5 separate regions of the Homo sapiens genome follow, and regions 2, 3, 4 and 5 are each linked to region 1. Evidence: fine-mapped expression QTL. A gene starts in region 1. Each other region holds a variant in brackets. All regions are shown on one strand. Distances are between the middles of the regions. Region 1 holds the start of CCNB1IP1 (cyclin B1 interacting protein 1). Region 2 overlaps TEP1 (telomerase associated protein 1). Region 3 holds the start of TRP-AGG2-6 (tRNA-Pro (anticodon AGG) 2-6). Region 4 overlaps TTC5 (tetratricopeptide repeat domain 5). Region 5 overlaps TTC5 (tetratricopeptide repeat domain 5).

Region 1 (5,999 bases):
CAAAAACAGAAAACCAAGTATTGCATGTTCTCACTTATAAGTGGGAGCTAAATCTTGCGTTGGGAGCTAAATCTTGCGTAGGGAGCTAAATACTGGGTTCACAGGAACAAAAAGTTGGGAACAATAGACACTAGGTACTCCAAAAGGAGGAAAAGAGAGAGAGGGGCAAGAGCTGAAAAACTTCCTATTGGGTACAATGTTTACTACCTAGATGGCAGGATCAATAGAAGCCCAAACCTCAGCATCATGCAATATACCCTGAAACAAACCTGCACATGTACCCCGTGAATCTACAATAAAAACAAATTTAACAACAAAAAGTCACACTTCTCACAATAACCCAGAAGCCAGAAAGGTCACTCATATAGTACTCATAAGGGCCCTTCCAACTCCAAGATATTGTGTCCTTTTTTTTTTTCACTCTTGTTGCCCAGACTGGAGTGCAATGGCGCGATCTCGGCTCACCACAACCTCCACCTCCCGGGTTCAAGCGATTCTCCTGCCTCAGCCTCCCGAGTAGCTGGGATTACAGGCATGCACCAACACGCCCGGCTAATTTTGTATTTTTAGTAGAGACGGGGTTTCTCCATGTTGATCAGGTTGGTCTCGAACTCCCGACCTCAGGTGATCCACCCTCCTCGGCCTCCCAAAGTGTTGGGGTTACAGGCGTGAGCCACCGCGCCCGGCCATATTGTCCTTCAAGCAAAAAAGACACAGGTTTGCTTCCCCCTTCCCCTCATTTCCTACTTAACAATGAAGACTCCAATGTATTATGAAGTCTTATTAACAAAAGCATGCTTCCATTGGAAAGAATGTAATGTTTTCCCAACTCACAAAACTTCCACCTAAAAAACCGGAACTAAGCCTCTTAAGACTAAAACAGCTTTGGAGAAATTCCCAAAGGCTTCCTTTTTTATTTTGCATGTTTACATCCTAAAATACATTTCAGCTTTTCCTAACTTAATACTAAAATATGCCCTCAACACCATGAGTTCAGGGGCATATCCAGCACACATTTTCTAAGTAAACACTGAAAGCATGCCCTTTCTGCCCCTGTGAATACAAAGATGACTTGGTTGTTCTGGGCCACTGCTGTCACTCCTTCCCAGCATTAAACACATGCTCATAACAAGATAAACCATCCCCACTCAAACCAAAGTGGGCAAAGATATATTCACATAAAAGCCATCAAGATGATTTTCCTTTCGGTAGAAAATCCTTTATTGCTCAATCAAGTTTAGAGTATTGATTGGTTTCTAATCACCACCGTGTACAAAATAAATATAAATAGGAAGCACTGCAAAATATCTAGAGTCCTTTTAAACAAGAATATACCAAAACCCAATTGAAATGCCTTTATGCCAACTGACTGATTTACAAGGTTATTCATTTGAGGGGGAAATATCAAGATCATAAACTATCTGAATACCTACTGATAAAAGCTAAATAAATTATAGTAGGTACATAAATTAGAATACTGAGTTACCATTATACCCTGAAAACCTACTGAAAAAATATATTTTTTAAAAAAAATAATTTTTAAAGAATACTATGTTACCATTATGAAGAATGTGAACACTCTACTCATGGAACTTAAGTGGAAAAAGTAAGACACATAGTAGAGTAGGTATAGTAAAAGGGAAGGATACCTACACATATTTGCTTATATGCATAAAATATCTTAGTAACACTGTTATGAGGGAGAGGAATTGGATGGCTTAGGGAAGGGGATAAGAAACTTTGATATCTTTTGAATTTTGAACCATGTGAATGTATTACCTATTCAAAAATATATATATATATGATGTGTATACATATATATATATATATATATATTTTTTTTTTTTTTTTTTTTTTTTTGAGACAGAGTTTCGCTCTTGTTGCCCAGGCTGGAGTGCAATGGCGCGATCTCGGCTCACCGCAACCTCCACCTCCCGGGTTCAAGCGATTCTCCTGCCTCAGCCTCCCGAGTAGCTGGGATTACAGGCATGCGCCGCCATGCCCCAAAAAATAAATTTTAACAATGCTTGAGAATTATAAAAATTATGGGAGGCCTACAAATACCTATTACTACATTCGATTAACTGGTTTATTATTTGTCTTTCTCACACTTTCTGCCTATAAGAATATCCAACACAAACATCACATTAAAATTAACATGTACCAAAAGAAAGGAATTCAGTGAAATGACATTGAAGGTCACTAAGCAAACTTTTTATGAGAAAACAGATATCCAAAATACTTGCTGTAAATAAATAAGTACTGCTTACTTCTAAAGGTACCTAACATTTATTACACACCAACTAGAGCCTAGTTTTTATATATTTTATCTGATCTTGGAAAGCTAAGCCTCGGAATGGCTCACTGCTTCTCCCAAGGTCACCAGAGCTGTAAACTGTGGCGCTGGAATTTAAATCTAGAGGCTTGCCCTGAACTAAGGTCCCTAATCTTTTTCCATAGCTTTTAAGGACACAATCACCACAGTGGCAACATTAAAAATTAGGAGCTCCTTTTAAGGCTTATCTGTCTTCAGAGTTTGCTGCCCAGGTTCACCAAGAAAGCCGAAATGATCTGAGCGAAGGCCAGGAGAAAGACAAGGTACGCTGCAGCTTCCACAAACCCAGTAAGGACCTGGGCCCTCTAGACACTCACCGGAGAATTAAACTCTACTGAGCTGAACGCCTTCTCCCGAAATCTGACCTCACCCAGGGAGATATAAATCAAAACAGCATTAGGATGATAATATCTTTCCCGCCAAGCAAAATGAAGCCGGCGTTTTCCAAGAACACACGCACTGTGCACATGAAGCACAGTCTATTGTTCCTGGGTCACCAGGACTCGGAGACGGAAGGCAAACCCAGTACTGCAGAGGCCCACGTGGAAACAAGCCAGGAAGAGCATTTCACTGCCTTCTCCCAACCTCCACACAGCCGAAATTAATCTCCTTGCGACTCACACACACTCCTATGCCGACTTGAAATAAAGGCCTGCCACCTGGGTATATAACTCAAATGGAAGAGAAATTCAAAACAATTAGAGAGCAAAATTAAGCGCACACTCACCAGCCCACCAAAACGGAGAGGGAAAGAAAGTGGAGAGACAGGAAGTCGCCTTGGGAAGTGTCTTCAGAACCTGATTGGCTAATGAGTTCAAGAGGATTCCCTCCTCCTTTACCTTAAAAGGTGCTGAAATGACGTAACCCACTCCACCCCTCTTTATGGACCAGTGATGCTTCTTGCACTATTTTTGGAGTGAACTTCTTAAACCGAGTTTCCTTTTGAGTTAATGTACTTAGGCAAAAACAGGCTAATTTAAGCTATTTATACACGTTGTTGTTTGCGTGGGCCTACTGCATTCTATTCTAAAGAATTTTCATCCCTTAAGGGTAATTTCTTATCCTTTGTGACCTCAACATGCTTAACTTATGCTAGGCAACAGATTCCATTATAAACAGTCTAGATCGATTCAAGTTAAAATTTACCTTCATTTTTTCCCCCCAGATCCAAAGCTGGCCTGATAAAATTTACCTTCAGGTAATCTTTGAACTAACAGGCTTAGTAGATAAAAGGTAGGTGGGTTAAGTGTTTTAGGCTTCAAATAAAATTTAGCTGATTTTGAATCTGAACCTTGCCACTTATTTGCACACATCTAAGCCTCAGTTCCAACTATAAAAAGAGGGAAAAAAGATGAAATCTTCCTACTCTGATGGTTATGAGGATTAAGTAAAATAATTTATATAATGTACTCAGTACAATGCCCGGTACACAGTACTCAACAATGTTAGCTGTTATTATTGTTATTACATATTTCTTGTTAGATTTATATTCCCAAGTAGACTATAAACAACTGGAGATCAAAGTGTACGTTTTACACATCTCCAGACAAAAACAATGACTTTCAATGCTGAGGACATAATTGATTAATCAATTATTTTGACTCCTCACATCGCCCTCCAGTTAAAGTATAGGTTCTTACTCTGTTAAATTTTTTTTTTTTTTGAAACAGGGTCTCACTTCGTGTCCCAGGCTGGAGTGCAGTGGTGAAATCTCGACTCACTGTAGCCTTGACCTCCCAGGTTCAAGCGATCTCCTGCCTCAGTAAGTAGCTGGGACTACAGGCGTGCACCATCACACCCAGCTAATTTTTGTATTTTTTTGTAGAGATGGGGTTTCGCCATGTTGCCCAAGCTGAAAGATTTCTTTTTAAGCCATAATTAGAGGACTCCCCGGCACAATATTCATCATTATTCTTAATAAATACTATTATAGTAATAGGGAATATATATACAAGTATGTGTTATATGTACAAATATACATGTAATGTGCAAATGTTTGAAGTATAAAGATTCAAGTTATATGGAGAAATGATACAACTCTAACTCATAGTAGTTCTCATTTTTTAATCATTTCATCCTATCCACCCTGCTTCCACCTTACTAGAAATTACCTATTCCAATCCACTTTAGAGTTTACCTGCCCCAAATTTCCCAACATTTAGCATCAAATGCTAATTTGTTATTTCATAATTGATTTATTGTAACTTCTAGAGTCAAAACATTTCTTGAATGTTTACTATAAATATTCAAGAAATGTAATATTCATTACCTTGTTTAATCTTCACATTAACCCAAGAATGTAAGCACTTTCATTATAACTATTTCACCAAAAAAAAAAAAAAAAAAAAGGAAACAGAGTTATAGAGATTAAGGAATTTGTCTATTTAGCAAGTGGTAAAGTCAGGATTCAGATCCCAGTTGCTATGGTTTGACTGTCCCCTTCAAAATTCATGTTGTCACTCTAGTTTCTCTTCATATCGCATAAATCTTTCACCTTTTACAAAATTCATGTTGAAACTTAATCCCTAAAGTGGCTGAAACTTAATCCTCATTAGAAGTGGGGCCTTCAAGAGGTGACTGGATCATGAGGGTTCTGCCCTCATAAATAAATTAATCTATTCATGGATTAATAGGTTATCATGGGAGGGGAACTAGTGGCTTTAAAGAAAAGGCAAAGAGACTTAAGGATAGCATGTTAGCAGTCTCAGCATCCTGGCCATGTGATTTCCTGCCACGCCTTGGAACATCACAGCGAGTCCCCTCCAGCAAGAAGGAGTTCAGATGCAACCCAGAGGCAGTCCTTAACCTTGGACTTCACAGCATCCATAACTGCAAAAAATAAATTTCTTTTTTAAAATAAATTACCCCACAGCCTAGCCAACATGGCAAAACCTCGTCTCTACTAAAAATACAAAAATTAGCTGAGCATGGTGGTATGGGCTTGTAGTCCCAGCTACTCAGGAAGCTGAGGTGGGAGGATCGATCACTTGAACCCGGGAGGCGGAGGTTGCAGTGAACCAAGATTGTGCCACTGCAGTCCAGCCTGAGTGACAGAGTGAGGCCCTGTCTCAAAAACTAACTAAATAAATAAATAAACCAGGCTTGGTGTGATGGCTTAGACCTGTAATCCTAGCACTTTGGGAGGCCGAAGCAGGTGGATCTCTTGAAGCCAGGAGTTCGAGACCAGCCTGGCCAACATGTCGAAACCCCATCTCTACTAAAAATACAAAAAATTAGCCAGGCATGGTGGTGCACACCTGTAATCCCAGCTACTTGGGAGGCCGAGGCAGGAGAATCGCTTGAACTAATGAGGTGTAGGTTTGGAGTACCGCTATACTCCAGCCTGGGAGACAGAGCAAGACTTTGTATCCAAAAAATAAATTAATTAAAAAACAAACTAATAAATAAGTGACCCAGTTTCAGGTATTCTGTTATAAGCAACAGAAAACAAACTGAGACAGCAGCCATCCAACTTGACAGCCCAAACTCAACCACCACATTGCACTGCTTCCTATATTGTGTGATTTCAGAAAACCTTAGAAAGTACAATATTCTTTTCAAATTCCCATTAAATATCTAACATTTCTTTATGATATTCTGTATTCCAGGCTTTAATACTTATAATAATCCATGATGAAATTCTCTTCAGCTGGTAACATCAAAA
Region 2 (5,999 bases), 66 kb after region 1:
CAAGTGCCTGACCTCTGCCCCCCACCCCGATACACCCTGAGACTGCAAAGCAAGAGGCTAAAAATATTGGTGCTGCTGCTTCATTTATTGTCAGATGTGGGAGGCAAAGAGGAGTTGGAAGAAAGGGGAGAATACCTTGATTTCTGAGTTGAGCCTCGAGGGCATCAATGGCATCATGGGCGTTAAGAAATCTGAATGGAAACTGCCGACTGTGGATCACCGACTTCTAGAAAGCAAAGGAGGGAGGGGTCATGAGCACAGGAGCCGGGAGTATGGGGGGCTTCAGGGGTCCACTCTATTAGCTTTGTGGGAAGGTACAGAAGGACAAAATGAACTTAGACAAGAGATATAGAAAAGGGGTAATAAGAAGAAAGAAAAAAGTCATCATTTTAGGATGTGAGAAAAGGTAACAAAAGAAGAGAAAGTAACAGAAGGAGCCCCGTTTCTTTTAAGACTCCCTCTGGGCAGGGTGTGGTAGCTCACGCCTGTAATCCCAGCACTTTGGGAGCCTTAGGCAGGTGGACTGCCTGGGCTCAAGAGTTTGAGACCAGCCTTGCCAACATCGCAAAACCCCATCTCTATAAATAAAAAACAAAGACTCCTTCTGAAATCAGTTACATCACACAAGTGTCTCTTCCTGGTAAGTCACTGAGCTCAGAAAATTAAAATGAAAGTTCTTATACTCTACTGTAACTTCTCAAAGGATTTACTGAACCCCAAAACTTATCTCCCTCAACCTAGCTGTATTCCCAGATCTACTTACAGCCCACATGGAAACAGCTTGAGGGCCGTACCTGCCTCTGCCCCCTGAAAAAGCCTGGCCTCTAAAGCAGCAGTGGCCTCTCCACGTGCACATCTAGTTGCTGGGCCCCATGGCTACCAGCCCCTCACACATACCGCATGCTGGAGTCTCTGGAGAATGAGCTCATGGTGGCGGGAACTGATTCCAACCCGCAGCAGGTTGCACAGGTTCCGAAGCATGGCCATGAAGGGAAGCTTCCCATTTTCTGTGGAATGTGGGGCATAGAGTGAGAAAAACAAATGAGAAGGCCAGGCACAGTGGCATGCACCTATAATCTCAGCTACCAAGGAGGCTGAGACAGAAGGATCACTTGAGCCCAGAACCCAGGAATTAGAGTCCAGCCTGGGCAACATAGCAAGACTGTCTCAAAAAAAAAAAGCAAATGAGGGATGATTAGAGAGAGGTCAGAGACCAGAGCAAGAAGTTCAGAAACCAGGCATGTGGAAAGTCCAAGATAGAGGAAGTGAGGAATTCACATACAATCTACCCTACTCAAAATGTTTTAAAGGCTTGGAAAGATTAAAAACAGGGTTGGCCCAAAGTTTGGAACAAAATTTATGCAACACTGTTTATGGGATGGCTGTTATGTTACCACTTAATCTGTTGGCTCTAGCCCTAAGATTGGGTTCAACTGGCAAAATGTATTATCTAGTCTAGAGCAAAGGTTTCTAAACTTTTTAGATGGCCAAAAGAGAAATTTCGTAGTGTAAGTTGATTTATGAAGTATATACTAACATAATGTAGCACATTCATTAGTTAATATTTCAAGGCACAATATCCATTTAAAAGAAGGTTCACCATTTATGAAACCCCGTCTCTACAAAAATACAAAAATTAGCCAGGCGTGGTGTCTGGTGCCTCTAATCCCAGCCACTCGAAAGGCTGAGTCAGGAGAATCGCTTGAAACCAAAATGCGAAGGTTGCAGTGAACCGAGATCACGCCACTGCACTGCAGCCTGGGTGACAAAGCAAGACTCTGTCTCCAAAAAAAAAATTAAAAAAAAGTTCACCATTTATAATGACGAATGTATGTAAATCCATATTTGAAATAGTCTTCATAATTTGTAAGCTTCTCACCCAATTTCTTCTATTTGATTAGTCATTACTTTTTTTGCTTAAATATAGGTGAAAAAGATTTGCACTGGAGATAGAATTTCACCACTGACCTCTGTCACTTCCTTATTGTTCCCTTGTACCTGTGTTATTAATATTATCTTCAAGCCATAGTTTCTTTTCTTTTTTTTTTGAGACGGAGTCTCACTCTGTCACCCAGGCTAGAGTGTGGTGGTGCAATCTCAGCTCACTGCAACCTCTGATTCCTGGATTCAAGCAATTCTCCTGCCTCAGCCTCCGAGTAGCTGGGATTACAAGTGCTCACCACCATGCCTGGCTAATTTTTGTATTTTTAGTAGAGACGGGGTTTCACCATGTTGGCCAGGCTGGTCTCAAACTCCCGATCTACAGTGATCTGCCTGCCTCGGCCTCCCAAATTGCTGGGATTACAGGCGTGAGCCACCATGCCCAGCCCATAGTTTCTTAATAATAATATTTTTAAGGTTTATATCAATTTTAGGCCGGGTGCAGTGGCTCACGCCTGTAATCCCAGCACTTTGGAAGGCCGACTCAGGCGGATCATGAGGTCAGGAGATCAAGACCATCCTCGCTAACACGGTGAAACCCCATCTCTACTAAAAATACAAAAATTAGCCGGGCGTGGTGGTGGTCGCCTGTAATCTCAGCTAATCAGGAGGCTGAAGCAGGAGAATCACTTGAACCTGGGAGGCGGAGGTTGAAGTGAGCCGAGGTCGCGCCATTGCACTCCAGCCTGGGCATCAAAGTGAGACTCCGCCCAAAAAAAAAAAAAAAAGGTTTATATCAATTTTAGACAGTTAATTTGGTTAATACTGAATAATATAATTCCAAATCCATCTACAATTGAAAGATAAATTGCTATAAGTCAAATTATATAGAAACCAAAATTAAAAAAAAAAAAGAGTGAAGGGGTGACATTAATGCCCTCAGATTGTGGATGCTCAGAAAACCTCAACTATTACACGTAACACATAACACTGTATCATATGGATTCAGTGACTATGTGGGTTCAATCTGCATGGTAAGTACTGGGAAAATTCTTTTCTTTTAGATAAAAGTAAACATAAATAGGAGGTGTGATTTTCTTTTCCTGGACAGAGGTGCATTCAAACCACTTTAGAGGCCAGGCCGGTCAGTCC[G/A]TCACCATGCCTTGTGCACCAGCCCACACCATCAGCAGCTTCATCAGGTAAATGCTGCTCCCTTTGTAAAGGGGATGTAAGTCTTATTTGAATTATAGCTGGAAGCTTTCAGCCCTCTGGAAGTCTTGGGATTCTCCAGTCATCATTCTTTTTTTTTTTATTTTTGAGATGGAGTCTGTCTCTGTCACTCAGTGGCACAATCTTGGCTCGCTGCAACCTCCACTTTCCAGGCTCAAGCAATCCTCCTGCCTCAACCTCCCAAGCAGCTGGGACCACAGACATCAACCACCATGCCCAGCTAATTTTTCTATTTTTGGTTAGAGACGGGGTTTCACCATGTTGCTCAGGCTGGTCTCAAACTCCTGAGCTCAAGTGATTTGCCCGCCCCAGCCTCCCAAAGTGCTGGGATTACAGGCGTGAGCCATGGTGCCTGGCCTCCAGTCATAATTCTGATTCACAAACTGTATGGAACAATTAGGTTGTATATGTACTATAAATGAACTATTGCATCCATTGTCGACTCAAGTTTTTTCCACTGTTACTATGTATAAAAGGTTTTCTAGATCATTTTCGGTAAGAAATTAAGTCCAATATCATACTGGTGATATTAGAAAATAAACTGGACATTTATCCTTAAGATTGCAAAATTCACTAATTTCATTCCAAAAAAATGTTAATGAGTTATTAATGAGATCTGTGGTCTTCAAAAAGGGTTCTGTATATCCAATTACATTTTATCTTATATTTTATACTTATATCTTTTTTTATATTTCCTTTTATTTATTTATATTTATTTTTGGCTGGGCACAGTGGCTTACATCTGTAATCCCAGCAATTGGAGACCAGCCTTGGCAACAAAGTGAGGCCCTGTTTCTTAAAAAAAAAAAAAAAAAAAAAAAAAGTACATATACATATATTCTGGTGTATCCTAAAAATTGTTTTTGTAGTATATGATTAAAAAAAAGAAACACTAGCCACCACGGGATTAGACTATGGGCATTTGCCTCAACCAGGATAAATGACATTAAAAGAATAAATTTACATGTCCTTACATTTTCAGGGACAGTGGTTCTCAACCAGAGGGAGGAAGTGGAGATGGGTGCATATAGAATTATCTTCATATGGCTGGGCGTGGTGGCTCACACCTATAATCCCAGCACTTTGGGAGGCCGAGGCGAGTGGATTACTGGAGGTCAGGAGTTCAAGACCAGCCAATATGGTGAAACGCCGTCTCTACTAAAAATACAAAATTAGCTGGGCATGGTGGCATGCGCCTGTAATCCCAGCTACTCGGGAGACTGAGGCAGGAGGCAGAAGTTGCAGTGAGCCAAGATTGCGCCATTGCATTCCGGCCTGGGCAAAAAGAGCAAAACTCCGTCTCAAAAAAAAAAAAAAAAAAAAAAAAAGAATTATCTACATATACCGGCTTCTATCCAGGCCCCTTTATTCTACTCCACCCCAAGTGGTTTCAACCATCAGGGAAGAAGAGGCTGTCAACTGGGGGCAGGTGTGTGTGTGTATGTGTGTTTGTGTGTGGGTGCGTGTGTGTGTGTGTGCAGTGGCTCATGCCTATAATTCCAGCACTTTGGGAGGCCAAGGTAGGAGAAATGCTTGAGGCCATGAGTTTGAGACCAGCCTGGGCAACATTACAAAGACCTTGTCTCTAAAATTTAAAAAGAAAAGTAATAATTTTATAAAGTAAAAAACGAAAGAAAGAGCCTGCTATAGGTAAAAGTAGACCAAAAAAAAAAAAAAAAAAAAAAAAACAGAGAAAGAGAAAACTGAAGATAACTTGATCCTCCTCTATTTGACTTTTTTTTTTTCTGTATCAATGTGGGCAAATTACCTAAAACTTCCATGTCCTAAATACAATATGAGGTTCTGTACAGATTCCAATATGCCATGTGCCAGTCCTACCTTTTTTGGAATGAGTTACAGAGATATCGATATGAGTACAATGAGAGAGAAGGTACTTTTGTCATATGTTGATAAAAACTTGTACATCACCTAACTACATCTGGTATAATGATCTATGATGCCAACATTACTCAAAGCAGGTACCACTGTTTACTTTGGTGTAGTCAATGGCAGACCTTATAAATCAAATACAACAACCAGGCAAAGTAATAACTTCATCATTCCACAGAAATCTTCTAGTGAGGATCTAAAATGTGGAGGCATAAATGGGGAAGAGAAGGAGGGAATGTGATGGTCAAGGTCACTCTACCAATGAGTTCCTCCCAGACCGACGCTTTGTTCCCCCGTAGGCTCAGCTCCCGCTCCCAGGTCTCTGGCCTAGACAGCTTCATCCTCTTCCCAGCTCTGCTAGAATCCCAAGGCCCAGGAAGGCGACTTCGAGAAAAGAGCTGTAGGTTGGAGGGGTATCTGAGGATAGGTAAGAAAGAGGTCTATCATTTCAGAGTCAGCAAGAAAATAACTCAGAAAAGGAAAGGTGAGTCATGTTTACAGGGCATGTCTGCCCAAATATGCCTAAAAATAACTCAGAAAAGGAAAGGTGAGTCATGTTTACAGGTGAGTCAGAAAAGGAAAGGCAGCAATTGGAAAGGCAGTCATGTCTACAGGGCATGTCTGTCTAAAGTCATGTTGCTGGGTTTGAGAACTACTGGGATGGGGGCCACGGATGTTGAAAAGTTAAGGAATTACTTAGATGGAATGCATGCTCAGGGTGCAGCTTCTCACCTGTAACCCAGCAGGGCTTGAACGTGCTGGGCAGGCTTGTGGATGTGCAGTCGCTGAACCAGCTTCTTCAGGGTGAACCTTGGAGGATTCTTTTTCTCTGACACTGTATCACCGGCCTTCTCAAACTGTGGAAACATCCCCAAGTCCCACAGGGGTCCTTTCATCCATGACCATGGGAACTTTCTTCAATAAAGCAGATTGTAAGACCATCCGATCCCTATGTGGTAATTTCTTTCTTCAAAATAGATTTGGCCAAGGAGCAGGAA
Region 3 (5,999 bases), 280 kb after region 1:
GGTAAGCAGTTGCGATCAGAGGGACAGACACCATCAGAACACACAAGGGCTCGATCACAGATTCTGTTCTAAATGTGAGAAGTTATTGGGTGCTTTTAAGTGGAGGAGAGCATTGTTTGGCTTACATTGTAATAGGATAACTCTGGCTGTTCTCTAGAATAGGGAGTAGAGAAAAAGTAGGAAGATGAGTTAGAAGGCTATCATTGGGATGTGTAAGAGATGAAGGAGAGTTTAGACCAGGGTGATAATGAGTGTGTTGGGAAATAGACGAAGATAGAACAGTGGATTGGATGTGATGTTGGAGAAACTGGATACATGATGGATTTGTTTCCTGAGATATGGGTGGTGGTTGGAGAGCAATTGGAAGAGAAGTGGCAGGAAATCAAGGGTATCATTTGAGACAAGTAAATTCTGAGATGCCTATAACTTGTTCACATGCTGGGGCAAGCAGGTGACTATATCTACAAATCTAGATCAAGGCTTATGAATAGGAATCATCAGTATACGATGCTATGTTAAGCCTCATGACTTGATAAGTATAGAGAGATAAAAAAAATTGGCAAGGGGAGAGCAAGATAACACTCAAATATTGAGAGGTCAGGAAAGGAGGAGCCATTAAAAGAGACTGAAAAGTAGCCTCCTGAGATGAGAAATGAAGTAGGACGAAGACTGAAAAGTGACCTTTAGATCTGGAAGCATCAAAGTCATTGGCAACCTTGACAAAAGCCATTTCAAGTAGCGTGGTGGAGAAAAAAGGCCTGATCATACTTGGTTGAGGACAGAGCATGAGGGGAGGAAGTTGAGATACACAGTGCATAACTTTTAAGAAGTTTTTTCTATCTATGCAGAATAAAGAGAATTGGGAAGAGTGGCTAAGAAGGAATTTTTTTAAAGGATTGGTGATACTGCAGCTGTTTAGTGTTTGTATGCTAATGGAAATGATTGGCACACTGGGGGAAATAGCTGCTGTGTGTGTTGTTAGGGGCTTGGGGGTGGAGGAGCGGAGGTAATGTTGATTTCAGAAACCAAGTCCTTACCCGAAGGAGAGGAAATGCGAAATTCATCTGATGTGAAACTGAAGGAGCTGCCCTCAAATATGAGAAGTGAAAGATGGGCCTTGAAACAAGACAGAAGACAGAGATGATGAGTGTCGATGTGGGTAAGTTAGTCCATCTGTTGCCAGGAAGGGATATAGTTCACTTCTAATGGAATCGTTTTATTCTGTAATAGTTATTCACACACTAAAGAAAGTTGCTAAGGATCCACAAAACATTATTTTTAAAGTTAACATTTCAAAATTTGCCTTTGGAGATACACTTTCTCTCATCACTCTATTGCTCCACTGGAGTTAACAGAATTCATTGCCTACCTCACAGTACAAAACAAACAAACACCAGAAAGGGTGGGGAAAAAGGAAAGAAAGGAAAAGGAGAAGAAAAGGCAATATTATGTAATAACATGTAAACCCCTTTTTAAAAGATAACACATCATACAGTTACACATGGTGACAATGTTAGTATGTGTCAGCTCCCAATTCATTCCCAGGAAAGAAAGCAGCTCCTTGTGTTTACCAAGGGCTAAAATTTCCGAGCAACTTTGCATAGACTGTTTTATTTGACTTGACAGGATTGCTAGAGATAGGCAGGGAGAGGAAGATGTGTTACAGTTTGTCAGAGAGAATAAGAAGGATAACCTGGGGTTTTCTGTGCTTTGCTTCTTCACATCCCTGGGGAGTTAATAGCTGCAATTTTTCAAAGAACGGTATACAGGGACAGCAAAGTGCAGTCGTGAAGTTTTCAAACAAGACACACCTTGTTGAGTTGAAAAGAGCGAGGGCTCGTCCGGGATTTGAACCCGGGACCTCTCGCACCCTAAGCGAGAATCATACCCCTAGACCAACGAGCCGCGATACAGATACTCTTAAGTTTTGCACTAAGGCTCATTCAAATCATTAGGCATTTTTCTGATAAACTAGGTTCTTGGGTGCCTTCTATCGGCAAGAATGCGTACTTATTTGAATAGTAGAGGTAAACCACACGCCCCAAGAGTCATTGAGACTGGCAGCTTCTGCAGCAGGCGTGAACCCCCGTAGCCTAAATGACAGCCGAAGAGGCGCCGAAGACATGCAGATGTGCCAAGCGGCAGTCACGTTGCTGCCGCGTTGTCCGACCCCGCTTACCTCCTGATGTGGAAATCCCTGTGGGTAGGAGGAAAAAACACACAGGCCCCAGCGAGAATTGAACTCGCGACCCCTGGTTTACAAGACCAGCGCTCTAACCCCTGAGCTATGGAGCCCTCGTCTGCTTTTAGTTTCTCTTCCTTTCATCTTATAGATTGATGTTATGCTCCTAGCATTCCGGCTAC[T/C]GAATAGGATGTTAGCTTGAGTAAAATTCCAGGATATTCTCCTACAAAATGAAAACATTTTCGTGCTCTGTAAATCCCTCGAAAAGGTTCTGCTTTGAGCAGAGCAACTATCAGGCTGTCTTCCCGTTCCTCACCGTGATACTCTCTTGAGACTTTGCCTACTGTGCCTCTGTGGTGCATGGAAACGGTGTTGATGTAAGAATTTCAGATCTTTGGGTACAAGGGCGACCCCCCCCACACACACCTCCCGAAATATGAGGCGTCTATGGAGGGCGTCTGATGGACAAGGAAATTGTAGTGCTCGCCTTCCGCTTAATATGGTGGTAAAATCCAGGGACGGAGGTGAGAAGAGATTTTCCACGGCTTTTTCCTTTCTCAATCCAGATCCCTAAACCTCTAAACTTGGAGGAGTTTTCTGTGGTCAGAGGAAAGAAAGTTAACTCTTTCTGGAGTTAATCCCTCACTCTTCCAAGGTCCAGAGGTAGAAGCAAACAGGGAAAAGGGGTGTTGAGGAAGAAGAGTTTAATCCTTCCCTGAAGACATACACAGATTTACACATAGTTGGTATGAAAATAATACGACTTTTTAGAAAAGATTGTTTTTAATTTTTAGAAACCTTGTTTATATAAGCTGGTGAACAGAAACTAAACAATTATTTAACTAAGAAAGATCTCGTACCCATTTCTTACGGCAAATAAGCCGTAGGTGAGAACATTGGAAAATAAGCACTGATTCATGAAACACCAAGAAGTGACGCGACTCTGCTTAGTAAGATTTAGACCCTCTGACCACAGCTCTGCTCTTATACTCACTATTTTTTAGTGCTTTCATGTCCAAGATCACAAAATTTGTAAGAAATCTGTAAGGTTATTATGATTCATTGTCTCCTTTATTTTTCATTATTTAAACGTAAAACATGATGCTGTTGACCTTACACATTTTCAAGGAAGAAAAGTGCTCTATTTAGATAGGCAAAGTAAGGCATTTGTGGCAGATTTTCTTGGATTAGGGATGAGTCAGGAAGAGGCCTCACAATGTTGTCCTAAGGTGAGATGAATACATATATTTTGTAGCCTGACAAGGGCTGTTCCTTCTACTGCTCCTGGGTGTTTAACCCTCAGTCTTCTGCTCCCAAGAGAACTACAAGGCTTTGTTTTAACTGATTGAATTAAAAATTGAGTCTCTATACTCTATTTGCCTACACAAGACACTTCACTGGAGAAAACCTCTAACATGCTCTCTTTGGGCCTAAAGACACACCTCATAGCTTAAGGAAATGGCAGGTTGCCTACCTTTTTTTTTTTTTTACGTCAGGGGAACACAAGTACGCCTACCTTTTTTCTAGAGCAGAAAAGTCAAATTAAAATAAACTTTTGGTCATAGTTGATGTGTGACTGTTGGCATGTATAGACATAGAGTATGTAGTGCAGTGGTTAGAAAAAACCTAAATCGGTTATTTAACTTTGCCAGGTCTCAACGTCCCTGTTTTCAAAATAGGTGTTTATTATTATCATCATTGTTAGTATTATCTTCATTATTATTATTTTCAGAGAGACTGGCCATAGGCAAAATTACTAAGCAGTGGAAACTGTCTCTCAAACGGCCTTCTTCCTCTTTGCTGTTTCTCCTCCTCTCTTTGCTTGTCTTTCTCTGATGGTATTCATGATGGCCCCTCACCTTCTCTTAGAACCTGTCCCCTCATTCTCACCCTGTCACAATTTGGCAAGCTCACTTCTATTCCCTACATGAATTGATTTCTTCTCTTCTAACCACAGACTGTTATTCATTTAAGAATAATTTAAATTTGGGAGGCTGAGGCGGGCGGATCACGAGGTCAGGAGATTGAGACCATCCTGGCTAACACGGTGAAAACCCATCTGTACTAAAAATACAAAAAATTAGCGCATGGTGGCACGGGTCTGTAGTCCCAGCTACTCGGGAGGTTGGGGCGGGAGAATTGCTTGAACCCGGGAGGCGGAGGTTGCAGTGAGCCGAGATGGCGCCACTGCACTCCAGCCTGGGCGACAGAGCCAGACTCAGTCTAAAAATAATAATAATAATAATAATTTAAAATATTCAAAGAAGTATTCCAAGGAGAGAAGCCAGGGCAACAACCATGGATCTGATGTTTCTGGTTTCTGCTAGACAGAGGCTGGCTTTGCGGAGAGGGTTCTCACTCCTCTATCAGTACAAATAAACCTTTGACCAATTGACCCTATCCACATTCAGCCCACTTCCTACCATCAAAGGTTGTCCCAGGACCTTATGTTACATTCTCATTCTTCCAGGCCCTTACTCCACAATTCACTCGAGTTGGCGTGTCTGACGCTACGAAACTCCAAAAGCCCCTTCTACTAGTTTATTAGACTTAGCATCAGCAAACCTGGTTGTGCTCCAGTGTGTTCTGGCCCATCCTGAGCACTTCCTCTGCTGAGCAACTTGACCCCTAGTTGTAATCTTAGCAATATTTTTAATTGCTTTTTTTGTTGTTTGTCTGTATTTCTTCCATTTCCCCTCAACTTTTCATTTGGAAAAACTTTAATCCTAATGTGGAAATAAATGAACACCAGTTAATGAGAACCAGCAAAAGCTATTCAGAGCTTTCTATAGCAAAGGAGTTAGCAGCCTTCACTTGTGATTTTTTAAAAATATAATTTCCATATTATTTTTCTCTAGAGAGAGTTTTTCTTCAATCCTTAAGGACTCACCTTCTTATATGGGCTTTGGTAGGGGTCATGTGGCAGCACCCATAGGTCTGAATCAGGGTGGCGGTGTTCGGTCCTTGCAAGCTTCACAAGATTAATTCCTGTCTACCTTGCTGTGAATGACACAACTCCCACCGTAACAGAATTTCACGAACAACTTGGGAAGCCCATAGGCGTCAAAGATACTAGCTTCAGAAATGTCCCTGACAGGTGCAGTCTCTACTACGTTTTGAATGATGAACTTCTTAATAGTCTTGCCTTTGGGTAGGCATAGGGCATAATTCATGTAGCAAATAGGCTGCACGTGGCTGTGGCCCTTTTTGGCATGACCATTGTTATTTCTTTTCTTTGCCATCTTGGAAGTGGGGACCCAAAAGAACGTCACTTGTGATTTGGCAGAGACTCAAAGGCAAGCAGAGGAGTGGGAAAACTTTATAGTGGACAAAGGGAAGCCTTCAAGTGTGCCCTGACTGGAGACTGTGGCATGGGGACACGGTGGGCAGGCTAACTAGAAGCGGGGCATCCTATGTGATTGGTTAGGGATGCATATTTGGCTTTCTCTGGTTGATGCTAACTTGGAAACAGAAACAAATAATAGGAAAGGTGTTAATTATTCATAAATTCCTAGCCACTGGGTCTGGTTTTTACAGAGGTTATTGTTTGGCTTCCTGGGCTGGTTGCTTAGAGATAGTGGTCTGACTTCCTAAAAGTCTGGCTTAAAGGCAATGGACTGGCCGGGCGCTGTGGTTCACGCCTGTAATCCCAGCACTCTGGGAGGCTGAGGCAGGCGGATCACCTGAGGGTCAGGAGTTCGAGACCAGCGTGACCAAAATGGTGAAACCCTGTCTCTACTAAAAATACAAAATTAGCCTGGCGTGGTGGTGCATACCTGTAATCCCAGCTACTCAGGAGGCTGAGGCAAGAGGATTG
Region 4 (5,999 bases), 33 kb before region 1:
GAAACCCCGCCTCTACTAAAAATACAAAAATTAGGCGGGCATGGTGTGGCACGTGCCTGTAATACCAGCTACTTGAGAGACTGAGGCAGGAGACTCACTTGAACCTGGGACACGGAGGTTGCAGTGAGCCGAGATCGTGCCACTGCACTCCAGCCTGGGTGGCAGAATGAGACTCCGTCTCAAAAAAAAAAAAAGATTAAAAAGTGACTATTTAGCAGAAGCCAAATATAAAATGTTGAAGGAATATACCACACTATTCTTTAAAATGTAAACATTCACCAAATTAAGAAATTAGAGTAAAATATAATTGCTCTAAAAGTTCCGTGATTGAAAAAGGGCAGTTTAAAGTCAAAGGTAGAGTTGTGGGGAGAGTGGCAGGAGGGGGAGAAAAACCAATTTAAAAGGGCAGTCCCTGAATTGCAAACATGAACATACAGTAACTGTGTTCTTTATTCTACCACAGGGAGCAGAATAAGTAATGATAAGTTAAAAAGCAATTCTCTATATCAAGAGAAGCAAAAGAAGAAAGGTAAATATGAGAGCTAAATAAAAAGTGCTCAGAGGACCAATGTGAAGTCAGAAGCCAATTCTAATAATGAGAAAAAAGGCACTCAAAGTCTGAGGGAAAGCCCTATGCAAATGCCTATCAACATAAAAATGCTTGAAAACCTAAATAAATTTCTTGAAAACCTAAATAACCTAATTCACTTAATTCCTAGGAAATGACACAGAACAAGCTACACATTGTTTTCTCTTTTAGCCCATGGGAAATCCAGAGCCATAATATTACCTAACGGTTAATTTGGGGATAGCACTTAATTTACACTGAAGTATAAGTTTTCATTATTCTTTAAAATGAATGTACAAAAATATTAATAAGTATTATTTTAATAGACTTTTTTCCCATTAAAAAAGATGAACATGTTGAGGCAGCTCTGTGATTTGGTTATATATGTGTGTAAGAAACCCAGACAGGTCAAGGAGCTATCCAGCACCAATGCGACACGATGCAAGTGGTTCCTAACACTCAAGTTATAAGAAGTCAGTCATCTCTGCAGACACATCTTTGCAAAATCACAAAAATGAGATGCCAGCAAACACTGCCACTGCCCATGATGCTTGCTAAAGGGCCACAAAGAAGACTGAACAATGCTCTTGCTTCTGTTGTTGCCTATTCATCTGGCCTGGTGACCATAAGTACTTACTGCTTGGGCATAGGCACTGAGGGCTTGCTGGGAGATCTTAGGGTTCTGGCCAGTAGAGAAGTAAAGGGAAAGATATGAATTCCCAAGAATATCTGAAAGAGAAACACAGTGACAAATCATCTCAGAGTCCAAGTTCAAGATATGACTTATTTTGATCATTCTTGAAAGTATATTTGAAAGGTCCCACAAGAAATCCAAACCAGGAATGACACGATACTTAGTATACCCAAAACTCCACTAGGATAGAGCACCAAGGACACCAAACTGAAGTTTGAACAGACTGTACAAAAGCCCTTCCTTGCTTACGTGAAAACTAGGATCAAAAGATCGAAGAGTTCCTAGAAAAGTAGTTCCCCAAAATGTCTTTCGTGTGTCTTCAAAACAAAGATGCCCTCTCTGGCTTAAACCTCAGAATCACACTCAAAAGAGGGACTGCAAATGTTGCTCTGATTGAAAACATCTGCTCTAGAAACCTGTTGGAGATCTTTTGAGAGCACTCACACCAGGAGCGGCCATCATGGACATCCATCTGAACAGCCAACTTAGCCTGTCGGACACTGTCCATGACATGGTGAGAATGTTCATCTTCAGTGTCAGTCCGCAGCTGACGAAGCACCATTGACAGGTTTTGCAAGGAGACTTTGTTCCTGCACTGCAAATAGGAAGGGCACATACTCAATCTTCCTGATTCTACCTCCCCTTTCCAGATCTATTCTGAACTCAGTCTTCTAAATCTAATTTTTTACCTTTCTAAGTTTTTTGTTTTGTTTTGTTTGAGGTGGAGTCTTGCTCTGTCACCCAGGCTGAAGTGCAATGGCGTGATCTCGGCTCACTGCAACCTTTGCCTCCCGAGTTAAGTCTTTCTCCTGCCTCAGCTTCCCAAGTAGCTGGGACTACAGGTATGCACCACCATGCCCGGCTAATTTTTATATTTTTAGTAGAGACTGAGTTTCACCATGTTGGCCAGGCTGGTCTTGAACTCCTGACCTCAAGTGATCTGCCTGCCTCAGCCTCCCAAAGCGCGGGATTACAGGTGTGAGCCACCACGCCTGGCCGTATTTTTCTTTTTGTGACAGGGTCTCACTCTGATGGAGTGCAGAGGCACGATCTCAGCTCACAGCAACCTCCACCTCCTGGGTTCAAGTGATTCTTGTGCCTTGGCCTCCTGAGTAACTGGGATTACAGGCACATACAACCATGCCCATCTAATTTTTGTATTTTTTGGTAGAGGCAGGGTTTCACCATGTTGGCCAGGCTGGTCTCGAACTCCTGACCTCAAATGATCTCCCCACTTTGGCCTCCCAAAGTGCTGGGATTACAGGCATGAGTCACCACGTCTGGTCCATGTATATATATATATTTTTTTTTTTTTTTTTTTTTTTTGTAGAGACAAGGTCTCACCATGTTGCCTAGGCTGGTCTCAAACTCCTGAGCTCAAGTGATCCTCCTGCCTCGGCCTCTCAAAGTGCTAGGATTACAGGTGTAAGCTACCACACCCAGCCCTAATTTTTTCATCTAAATTCTTGCTGCCATCTGTATCTTCAACCCCCATCCACAGGGATCAGCTTAGCTGCTAGCTTTTCTTCACTTCCTTTCTCCCCCTGAACCTGATCCCATCATCATCTTCCTTTCCCAGGCCCCTGCCTCTATTTTCCTCATTCAGGTCTGCTCTCTGACCTTTCCTCCCTCCTGATTCTGTCCTAGTTCAATTTCAGTTCTACTCTGGTATTCATGTCCTAGGGAAACTCATAGAACCAAAGAAATTCATCCTTCCCATCTCTGCTTTCCAAAGGGATAGGGGGCAGCTCACATGGGTGAGGGCTCCTGAGAAGCAGGTGTGGGCAGCTGCAACATCCCCTTTTTTCCAGTACACCTCACCCAGCTGGTTCCAGGCTTCCACCAGCTCGGGCTCCAGCTTCACAGCCTTTGACAGAAGCTCCTCAGCCTTAGGGCTATAGTCAGGAGTCACATTTAGTGCTTTCCCAGTTAGCATTAGAACTTGTGCCTTGCCCTGGACAGAACCTAAGAGGAAGAAAAAAAGATAAAGTGGGAAAAAAACAAGTTAAAGACCAGGGCACTTTCTCTCAAAAAATAACTACACGTCAGTTTTAGGAATAAAAAGAGTTGGGGAAAATATTTATCAATAAACCATTTATTGAAAGCTCACCATAGGCAGAGTGTATGTTAGCTAATTAGGCAACAAAGAAAGCACTATTTCTAGAGCTTCTGCCATCTGTTTCTTGGGCCCCTATCTACAAGGATCAGCTCGGTTGCTAACTTTCCTAGAGGGGTTTACAATCTAGTGGAGAAGACAAAGCGTAAACATGGAAAATTAAAA[C/A]CATGAAAAAGAGCATATGGCATTAGCCCAATGAATGGGCTTTAACAAGTGAAGAGAAGATGAGTCAGGACAAATAGTTATCGTTAAAACAAAACAGAGAGAGAGAAGAAAAGACCCTCCAGGTTAGAAAATGATATAAACAAAGACACAGAATCAGAAGTACATGTGGCCATGTTCATGGGAGAATAGACAGTTCAACCTGGATGAAACAGAAAGTTCCTCTACAAGTAATTAGTCAGAGATAAGGTTAGAAAACAGAGTAAAACAATGGACACTTAAATACCAGGTTAAGGGGGTTAGACTTCAGCTAGTCAATAGCAGGAATCTTTAAAGATACCTGAGCAAAAAGGCAGATGAGAGGATAAGGTTAAATGCATGAAGTAATGATTTAGAAAGATAGCCATGGCCATGGTATTATATAAGTGGATTTGAAAGTAAAAGAAATTAGAGGCAGAAAGTCAGATTACTGCAATAGTTCAAGTAAGTATGCTCTTTCATTTCATGCCATTTGCTATAATCAAATTTTAGGAAAAGTGGCTTAGGGAATGAAAGGTTGCACAGGGGCCCTGAGAAGTAGTATTACGTTGTACTACCCTATAGCAGTAACAGATAGGATACCAAAGAGTCAATGAGGAGGGAGCAAAGGTCAATCACATTTCACTGAAGGATGGGGGTTGTACAATCTCTAGGGCTCATACCCACTACTTCTTCCATCTGCTGTAGGGTTTTCTCCATCTCCTTCTGCACATCCTGTTGCTTCCTCCCAGCATCCTCAACACTATGTGTCTCGAAATAGCAGTCTCGAAATGAGTAGAGCTGATCCACGAGTTCCTAAAAAGTATGACAATGGAACCATTAAGTGGAAAGATCACTGGATAGGGAAACTTGAAATTGGCTAGCCATACCAGCTCTTGGTCTAGAAATACCAATTCTCTTTCTCACCTATGAATGGCACAATAGGCAGGTGGACAGGTTTACTAAAATGCCACAAATCATGAGGAAAAGCAGCCAGTACCCCAGGCCAGCTCTCATGGTCCCATGTTGTCCCATGCCAGTGTCTCTATTGTGATGACCATTTTCTCTCCCTGCCTCAGCAGGGCTTCTAATATGACTAAGCACTTCACATACCACAGTCATGAGGAGGGAAACACTGCAACTTAAGATAAACCAAAAGTTAGTAAGATCATTCTATATGGTCCTGGTCCTCAAAGAATAACACTTTGAAATTTACCCTTAAAGTTGGACTTCTCAACTAAAACCATTTTATCCCTGATTTTTCATATGCTGAGATCTGAAAATACAACACAACCTTTGTGAATATAATAAACATGTTAGAGAGTCATTGTTTTCCACCACAAACATACCAATTTGAACTTGGTAACTTTGGTATCTTTGCAGCATTTTGTTCTTTTAAATGCTTATTGTGGTTTTGTTTAGTTTGATTTTTTTGTCAAGTCATCTTCTGGCTGCCTTGGATTTTTTACAAATAAATATTCTCTTTCCTCTTAAATGCCTCTGAGTCTTCCTGTCACACCAGGCAAAGCTTTTCTACTACAGGTCAAGCATCCCTAATGCAAAAATCTGAAATCCTCCAAAATCTGAAACTTTTGAAACGCTGACACCACAAGTAGAAAATTCCACACCTGACACACAGTCAAAATGCGGTCAAAACGTTGTTTCAGGCACAAAATTATTAAAAATATTGTATCAAATTACTTTCAGCCTATGTGTATAAAGTGTAAATGAAACAATTTTTTTTTTTTCTTTTTTAAAAGACAGGGTCACCAGGCGTGGTGGCTCATGCCTGTAATCCTAGCACTTTGGTAGTCCAAGGCAGACGGATCATGAAGAGATCGAAACCATCCTGGCCATCATGGTGAAACCCGGTCTCTACTAAAAATACAAAAATTAGCCAGGCATGGTGGCGCACACCTGTAGTCCCACCTACTCGGGAGGCTGAGGCAGGAGAATCGCTTGAACCTGGGAGGCAGAGGTTGCAGTGAGCCAAGATCATGCCACTGCCCTCCAGCCTGGCAACAGAGCAAGACTCCGTCTCAAAAAAAAAAAAAAAAGAGTCTCGTAGGTTGCCCAGGCTGGTCTCAAACTCCTGATTTCAAGCAATGCTCCCACCTCAGCCTCCCAAAGTGCTGGGACTACAGGCATAAGCCACCAAGTTTCATATTTAGATTTGGGTCCCATCCCCAAGTTATCTCATTATGTATATGCAGATATTCCAAAATTCAAAAAAATCCAAAATCCAAAAAACTTCGAGTCCTAAGCATTTCAGATAACAGATATCCTATTCTTTCCTGAAACTAAATAGATAGCAGCAGAAAGATATAATCACTTCCCTTCGAGTGTAATCAACAATCTTCACAACACATCCTGAATTCATCCACCTGTCTCCATCCCACTATGACCATTCCTGGATTACATCAGCTTCATTACTTGCCTGG
Region 5 (5,999 bases), 39 kb before region 1:
AACCACACTCTTGTTTTTCTTTTTTTTTTGAGGCAGACTTTCTCTATCACCCGGGCTGGCGTGCAATGGGACAATAATGGCTTACTGCAGCCTCAAACTCCTGAGATAAAGTGGTTCTCTCACTTCAGCCTCCTTAGTAGCTGGGACTACAGGCATGTGCTACCATACCTGGCTAAGTTTTTTAACATTTTTTTGTAGAGACGGGGTCTCACTATATAGCCCAGGCTGGTCTTAAACTCCTGGGCTCAAGTGATCCTCCCACCTTGGCCTTCCAAAGTGCTGGGATTTTACGCATGAGCCACCATGCCCAGCCTAGAAACCATTATTAATAAACACAAGCAGTGAGCCAGATTTGGTCAATGGGCTTTGCCAACCTCTGATCTAAATGGTTAAACAGTAGTTAAATATCTACATTCATAAGGTTTTTTTAAGAATTGAATGGGGCAAGGCAGGTAATAAAAACTCTTAGCACAGTGTCTAGCACTCAATTAAGTGTTAAATAAATGTTAACTATCATTACCATCTTCATCACCCCGTGTCTACTCAATGTGGTGAAATATGTAAAAACATAGGAAACATTCACAAACATTTGCATATAATATCCCACTCATGATTTAAAATATAGATATATGTGTATATATTTGTGAAAAGAAAAGACTTCAGGTATATACACCAAACTGTTAACAGTAACAGTTAAAAGGCAGTAATACCTGAGTGATAATATTTCACTGCATTTTTTTATTTTTCTGCTTACCAGTTTACCTTTTTAGTAAAAAAATACATATATATATATAAATAAAACATATACACACAAATATATATACACATAGCCTACACACATACTTACATATAATTATTTCTATATCTTTTATAAAAAGATAAGCTTGGTTCTACTTTTAGAGCCTACGAGTTGTAAGAGAATCCTAGCCATTGCTCACCTTTCCTTTGTGCTGAATTCGGTGAAGCCGCAGGTTGGGCTCAGGAATGGCTACAGAGTCTCCAATGAGCACTCCCCAGCTCTGCACTATATTGTACACCATCACTGCATAGCAAGGTCCATCTGAATCTACCAGGCCAAATGTACTACCAAGTAAAGACAGATTAGGAGAGAGGAAAACAAAAAGGTATGTGGGTAGGAAAGAAGAGCAGAAACAGTGGTTTAAAAATACTAGCAAAATACTGGACTTAAAGTCAGTGACAGGTAATTAAAATAAAATATAAAATTTAACTTAATTAAACTTTAAAAATAAAATACTAACAAAATAAACAAATGCTTTTTCTCAGTTACTCAGAAAACCTATGAGAGGTACCATCTTCCACTTTATATATCTGAGTCTTCATTTTTCTGAAACTCATCAGTCACTTTGCTAAGAACTTAGGACAAAGCACACTGAAGCCATTCAACAAATATTAATGATGAACTAGACCAACATGTTACAGTTGTAACATTATTCCTGGTCTATCAATTTAACTATCATACTCTTAACCAAAGCCTCTAACCATCACTGTCTGTGTAGTTTAACTCCACAAACTTTCACTGAATATTACATATGTGCCAAGCATTGTGTTTAGCAATAAGATACCAATCCAGCTATGAATGACCTATAGTCTAGCAGGAGTCAGACAATGAAGTCATCACTTACAGCACAGTGTGATGGGTGCTAGAATAGCTTTTCCCTTGTGCTGAATTCAATGAAGCCACAGATTGGGCTGTGGGAGCCCAGAGGACAAATATCTAAATCAAAATTGGAAAGCAGGGAAGATTTCCTGGAAGAGGTGACGCTCAAAGTGAATCTTAAAGGGTAAAAAACCAGCTGGGTTAAAAGAGAAAAATTAATCCTCGGTAAAAATGTTAAAAACCTCTGAGGGGATAGGAACAGAGATTTTGACTTGGAGGCAACATCAGGGAACTTCCCAGAATGGTGGTAATGATCTCTATTTGGGTTATACAGATATTTTCCATTTGTTAAAAGCTATGAAATGTACGCTTAAAATTGTACATTTCATTGTATGTAAATTTTACATAAAAAGAAAAAATTGAAACAAATACTGAACTCAGTTAATGACTGCATGCTAAAGTATGTAAAGTATATTGATCTCTGCAATTTACTCTGATAGCAGGATAAACAGACTGATATGTAATAAGCTAAGTAAAATAAAATATTAATGGTAGAATATAAGTGGATGAGAACACAAATGTTCAATGTAAAACTCTTTCAACTTAGCTATATGTTTGAAAATTTTTATACAAAATGTTGGGGGCAGAAGAGGATGTTAGCTATGTCAAGAAGAAGCTAGAGATTATCCAGGCAGAGTAACTGTATGTAAGACACAGAGGCATGAAAACAGCTGTTCTAAAACCAACAAAATTGTTCCATGGTTGAAACAAAAGGCACTGGTGGGAAAGAGACAAAAGATAATAGAAAGAGAAGCAGGGAGCAAATCATGAAGGACTTTGTATGCTAACCTAAGTAGTTCACACTTTATCCCAAAAGCTACATATAGTACCAGTAAGGGATCTTAAATAAGAAGTAGCAATGGTCAGATTTCCATCTAAGAAACATTTCTCTGGCAGCACTGTGGAACACTGGAGGAAACCAGAGAATCAGGGAGACCTATCTGGAGAAGTGATAAGGGGGTGAATTAAGGTGGTAAACACAGAGAAGTCAAGTCTATAGGACAAAAAAGGCAAATCTTTTTGGAGAATGGAGAAGCCTATTCTTCCAAAAGTCTTAATCAAGTGACTGAGAGGTGATACCATTCATTCACAAGGAATCCAGGGAGGAGAAGCAGGTTTACAGAGAAAGATTTAGGTGAGTAATACTGAAATACTGAGTTAGAGATTTCTTATTGGAACCCAGAAGCAGATGGTTATAGGAATCCAACACTTGGAAATGAAGCTTGGGCTGGAGATATATCTGTAAGCATATAGGAGGCTGCCAAAGCCTTGGGTTTATATGACATCACAGGGCAAGATGATCTATAGACAGGATGGAGAAGAATCACACTCATGCCATCACGTGACATGCCTGAATTCACAGGAAATATTGCAATCAAGCAAAGCACTCTCCTGATGAATCCAGTCAAAGCCTCAGAATCCTTCTACACAGTATGTCAGGCAACCACTGACAAGTGATCAAAGTTGGCAACTATAGGCCATCCTGATATAAAGAGAAAAAAGGAAAAAAACAAAAATAGAGTCCTGGGAACCTAAGATTTAAAAGTTAGGCAGAAAAAGAGAAACCAAGGAGTGGCAAAATATCTATTTGTTCTCAAGGTCCTCCAAAACCTACCTTTGTCTATATCCCTTTCTAATTCTTCTCAGCTCTAGGATTTGCTCTAGTAAACTAAACTGTTCTCAACTATCTTTTTGCCCTTCAACTCGTCAAATATACAAACCCCTAGAAAATGCCATGGAGAAAGCTTGGGCATATAATGGGAATTGTGAATATTTCTGTTTAGATGAACAGAAAGGATGTGAAAAGCAATAGTGAGAGATAAGTCAGAATGTTTTGGAACCATGCAATAGAAGTTGCTGGATCCAGTGCCTAGAAAGACAATGGTGATCCTA[G/T]GAAAATAACAATTTCAGTAGAAAAGAGAAAGGGGAAACCGGTCAACCAGGGATTAGGAAGTGAGTGAAGGACCAAGGAGTGGTGGCATTCACTAAACCGTAACTTTTCAAGATCCAAAAATTTTCTAAACAAATATTCTTAATTCATTTCCTCTGCTGCTAGAAGCACCTGCACCTGGGTCCTTTACATTTCTTTTTTCTCACTCCCTATGACACATATATTACACACTCAATAAATATTTGTTGAATGACATCTAAGACAATCTCCCAACCAGACTTTAAATTATAACTCAAAGCTCACTTTTCAGAACTAAGTATACCTAAGTACAAACAGGACTAAGAAATTTGTCCTCCTTCAACTTCTATGATCATGAAAATGCAAAGGGACAGAAGAATTTTGAGGTTTCTGTCTTATAAAAAAATATGTCCTGCCAAATTTCAACTATGGATATAGGAATCCACATAGCACCAAACTCAGGGATACAAAATGGGCAGTGACAGAATCTACAAAAGCCTCTGATCAAAAGATGGTTAAACATCACCCAGACAATATCTGCCCACGGGATAGTCACAGAAGGAAATCAGAAGTCACAAATCTGTGACCACTGACAATCTCCTCAACTGCCAGGGAAAGAACAGGAAGTGAGAGCAATTAGTTCAAAAGGGTAAAATGGGGGAAATCCAAGAGAAACTCACAAGGGGACTTTCTCCTCTGTGGTGAGGCTAAATACCACCTTTCCCAGGATGACGGCACCGCTGTTCACCCCAGGCTGAAGCGTACTCAGTGGCTTGAGCTCCAGGGTCACTTTCTGCCCAGAGGCTGACTGATAGTGCCCATCACTGCAAGGGCCTAGATGGGCTGGGCGCAAGCTTCCCAGCATGCTCTGCAGCTTTTTGGTCTTCACCTTTCCCTGCAAAGAAGGGGAAATAGGTAAGAAGCTGGAAACTAGTCGCCTTCCTTGAGATTCTAATCCTTCCCTCCCACCCACTTCTATAGGGTCTCTACCTCGTAAACCTATTTATTCTTATTTTATTGACCCACGACAAAATAAAAAAAAAAAAAGTGGAATTCAGCCCTTCAGACATTTTTACCTTACTCTCAAGGAGGCTGGTTAATCTATCCAGGAATTCCAGAAGTTGTTGCTCTCGTTGCCGGGGCTCTGGCCAGGCAGGGTCCAGGGCTGCAGCCCGAGAGAAGCCCTCCAGGGCCTCCCCATAACTCTCTTCATATTTATGCAACTGTACAAGAAGTGTATCCCAATTATAAGTATATCCAGACAAACTATCCCGAGGGAATGGCACCATGGGCTAGGAATCTAGAGAAATAAACTGTTTTCCTTCCTGGTTATTTTCCTGTGCTGCAACAAACAGCCTGAAGAGCTGGTAACACCTTACATCCTTCTTCCTAGCCAAGATGATCACAACCCCAAAGATGGAATCATTTCAAAGAAGCTAATTTCCAAACTCTAAAATAGTTAAGTTGTATATATTGGCTCACTTGACCTTTATATTTACTTAACATTTCAGAAGTCTTCTAAAAGATCCCCCCATTCTCTACCTATTCTTCCACCTCCACAGCCCCTTCTCCTTTCCCTCCAGTGACTACACCAGATACTGAAGCCAAACCGAGCTAGCTATTTATAGAAATAGCATGGCTTTCCTCTCGCAGTCTGTACCCAATCTTGTCCCTATGCAAACTCAGTTATCCTCACAAGCTAAGACATAGGTGTCTTATTTATTTGACCCTCAGATGACTACACCCCAAAGGTCTTACCGTCGCCCTGTTCAGATGAAGGTCAGGATTGCTAGAAGCTTTTCTGTCAACTTTCTCCTATAATGGGATGAAAAGATTATCAGTGGATCCTGTCTCAATGTTAAGGACTGACATGCCCAACATGTCCTACGCCTCCTCTTTCTAGAGAAATGGAAGTTTCTTCCTTGCCAAAATGGTATTTATACCACAGAAGCAGTTACCGTATAACAGTGTGGATATCTTAGTCCCAAAACCTTAGGGATATAAGTGTTTTTGTATGTGTGAGACTTCAAAATATTATTATAATTTATCCATGTAGTAGTATTAAGATAGAATAAATCTTTATATAAATGAAATATGTGGGCCGGGCACAGTGGCTCACACCTGTAATCCCAGCACTTTGGAAAGCCAAGGCTGGCAGATCACCTGAGGTCAGGAGCTCAAGACCAGACTGGCCAACCTGGTGAAACACTGTCTCTACTAAAAATACAAAACTTAGCTAGGCATGGTGGCATGCACCTGTAATTCCAGCTACTCAGGAGGCTGAGGTAGAATTGTTTTAACATGGGAGGTGGAGGTTGCAGTGAGCCGAGATTGCACCACTGCACTCGAGCCTGGGTGACAGAGTGAGACTTCATCTCAAAAAAAATAAATAAATGAATGAAATAGGTGAAA

The links. PIP is the estimated chance that this variant, and not a neighbour inherited with it, causes the effect. A credible set is the group of variants that fine-mapping cannot tell apart.
Region 2: its variant is the best candidate, but not a certain one, in a credible set for the expression of CCNB1IP1 in whole blood (TOPMed, PIP 0.73).
Region 3: its variant is the best candidate, but not a certain one, in a credible set for the expression of CCNB1IP1 in whole blood (INTERVAL, PIP 0.71).
Region 4: its variant is the best candidate, but not a certain one, in a credible set for the expression of CCNB1IP1 in whole blood (TOPMed, PIP 0.55).
Region 5: its variant is the best candidate, but not a certain one, in a credible set for the expression of CCNB1IP1 in whole blood (TOPMed, PIP 0.67).

The regions. Positions count from the first base shown.
Region 1 is chr14:20,330,192-20,336,190 of GRCh38, forward strand. CCNB1IP1 (cyclin B1 interacting protein 1) reads right to left here and starts at 3,088. Exons shown (of 7, transcript NM_021178.5): 1 at 3,063-3,088. RefSeq lists an enhancer at 2,858-3,167.
Region 2 is chr14:20,395,724-20,401,722 of GRCh38, forward strand. It overlaps TEP1 (telomerase associated protein 1), which reads right to left. Exons shown (of 55, transcript NM_007110.5): 8 at 5,734-5,858; 9 at 5,261-5,418; 10 at 898-1,007; 11 at 136-226. Among named protein-coding and RNA genes, the nearest start is that of TEP1, 15 kb to the right of the region's middle. RefSeq lists an enhancer at 4,906-5,999. The variant G/A (reference allele first, on the strand shown) is at 3,034.
Region 3 is chr14:20,611,568-20,617,566 of GRCh38, forward strand. It overlaps TRP-AGG2-6 (tRNA-Pro (anticodon AGG) 2-6), which reads right to left and starts at 1,905; the gene lies at 1,834-1,905. It overlaps TRT-TGT3-1 (tRNA-Thr (anticodon TGT) 3-1), which reads right to left and starts at 2,295; the gene lies at 2,223-2,295. It also overlaps the pseudogene RPS26P9. RefSeq lists an enhancer at 992-1,051 and a silencer at 1,782-1,971. The variant T/C (reference allele first, on the strand shown) is at 2,365.
Region 4 is chr14:20,297,592-20,303,590 of GRCh38, forward strand. TTC5 (tetratricopeptide repeat domain 5) reads right to left here. Exons shown (of 10, transcript NM_138376.3): 2 at 4,242-4,374; 3 at 3,016-3,227; 4 at 1,707-1,857; 5 at 1,206-1,297. Among named protein-coding and RNA genes, the nearest start is that of TTC5, 5.4 kb to the right of the region's middle. The variant C/A (reference allele first, on the strand shown) is at 3,544.
Region 5 is chr14:20,291,045-20,297,043 of GRCh38, forward strand. TTC5 (tetratricopeptide repeat domain 5) reads right to left here. Exons shown (of 10, transcript NM_138376.3): 6 at 5,346-5,402; 7 at 4,664-4,810; 8 at 4,268-4,482; 9 at 939-1,083. Among named protein-coding and RNA genes, the nearest start is that of TTC5, 12 kb to the right of the region's middle. RefSeq lists an enhancer at 4,012-5,211. The variant G/T (reference allele first, on the strand shown) is at 3,572.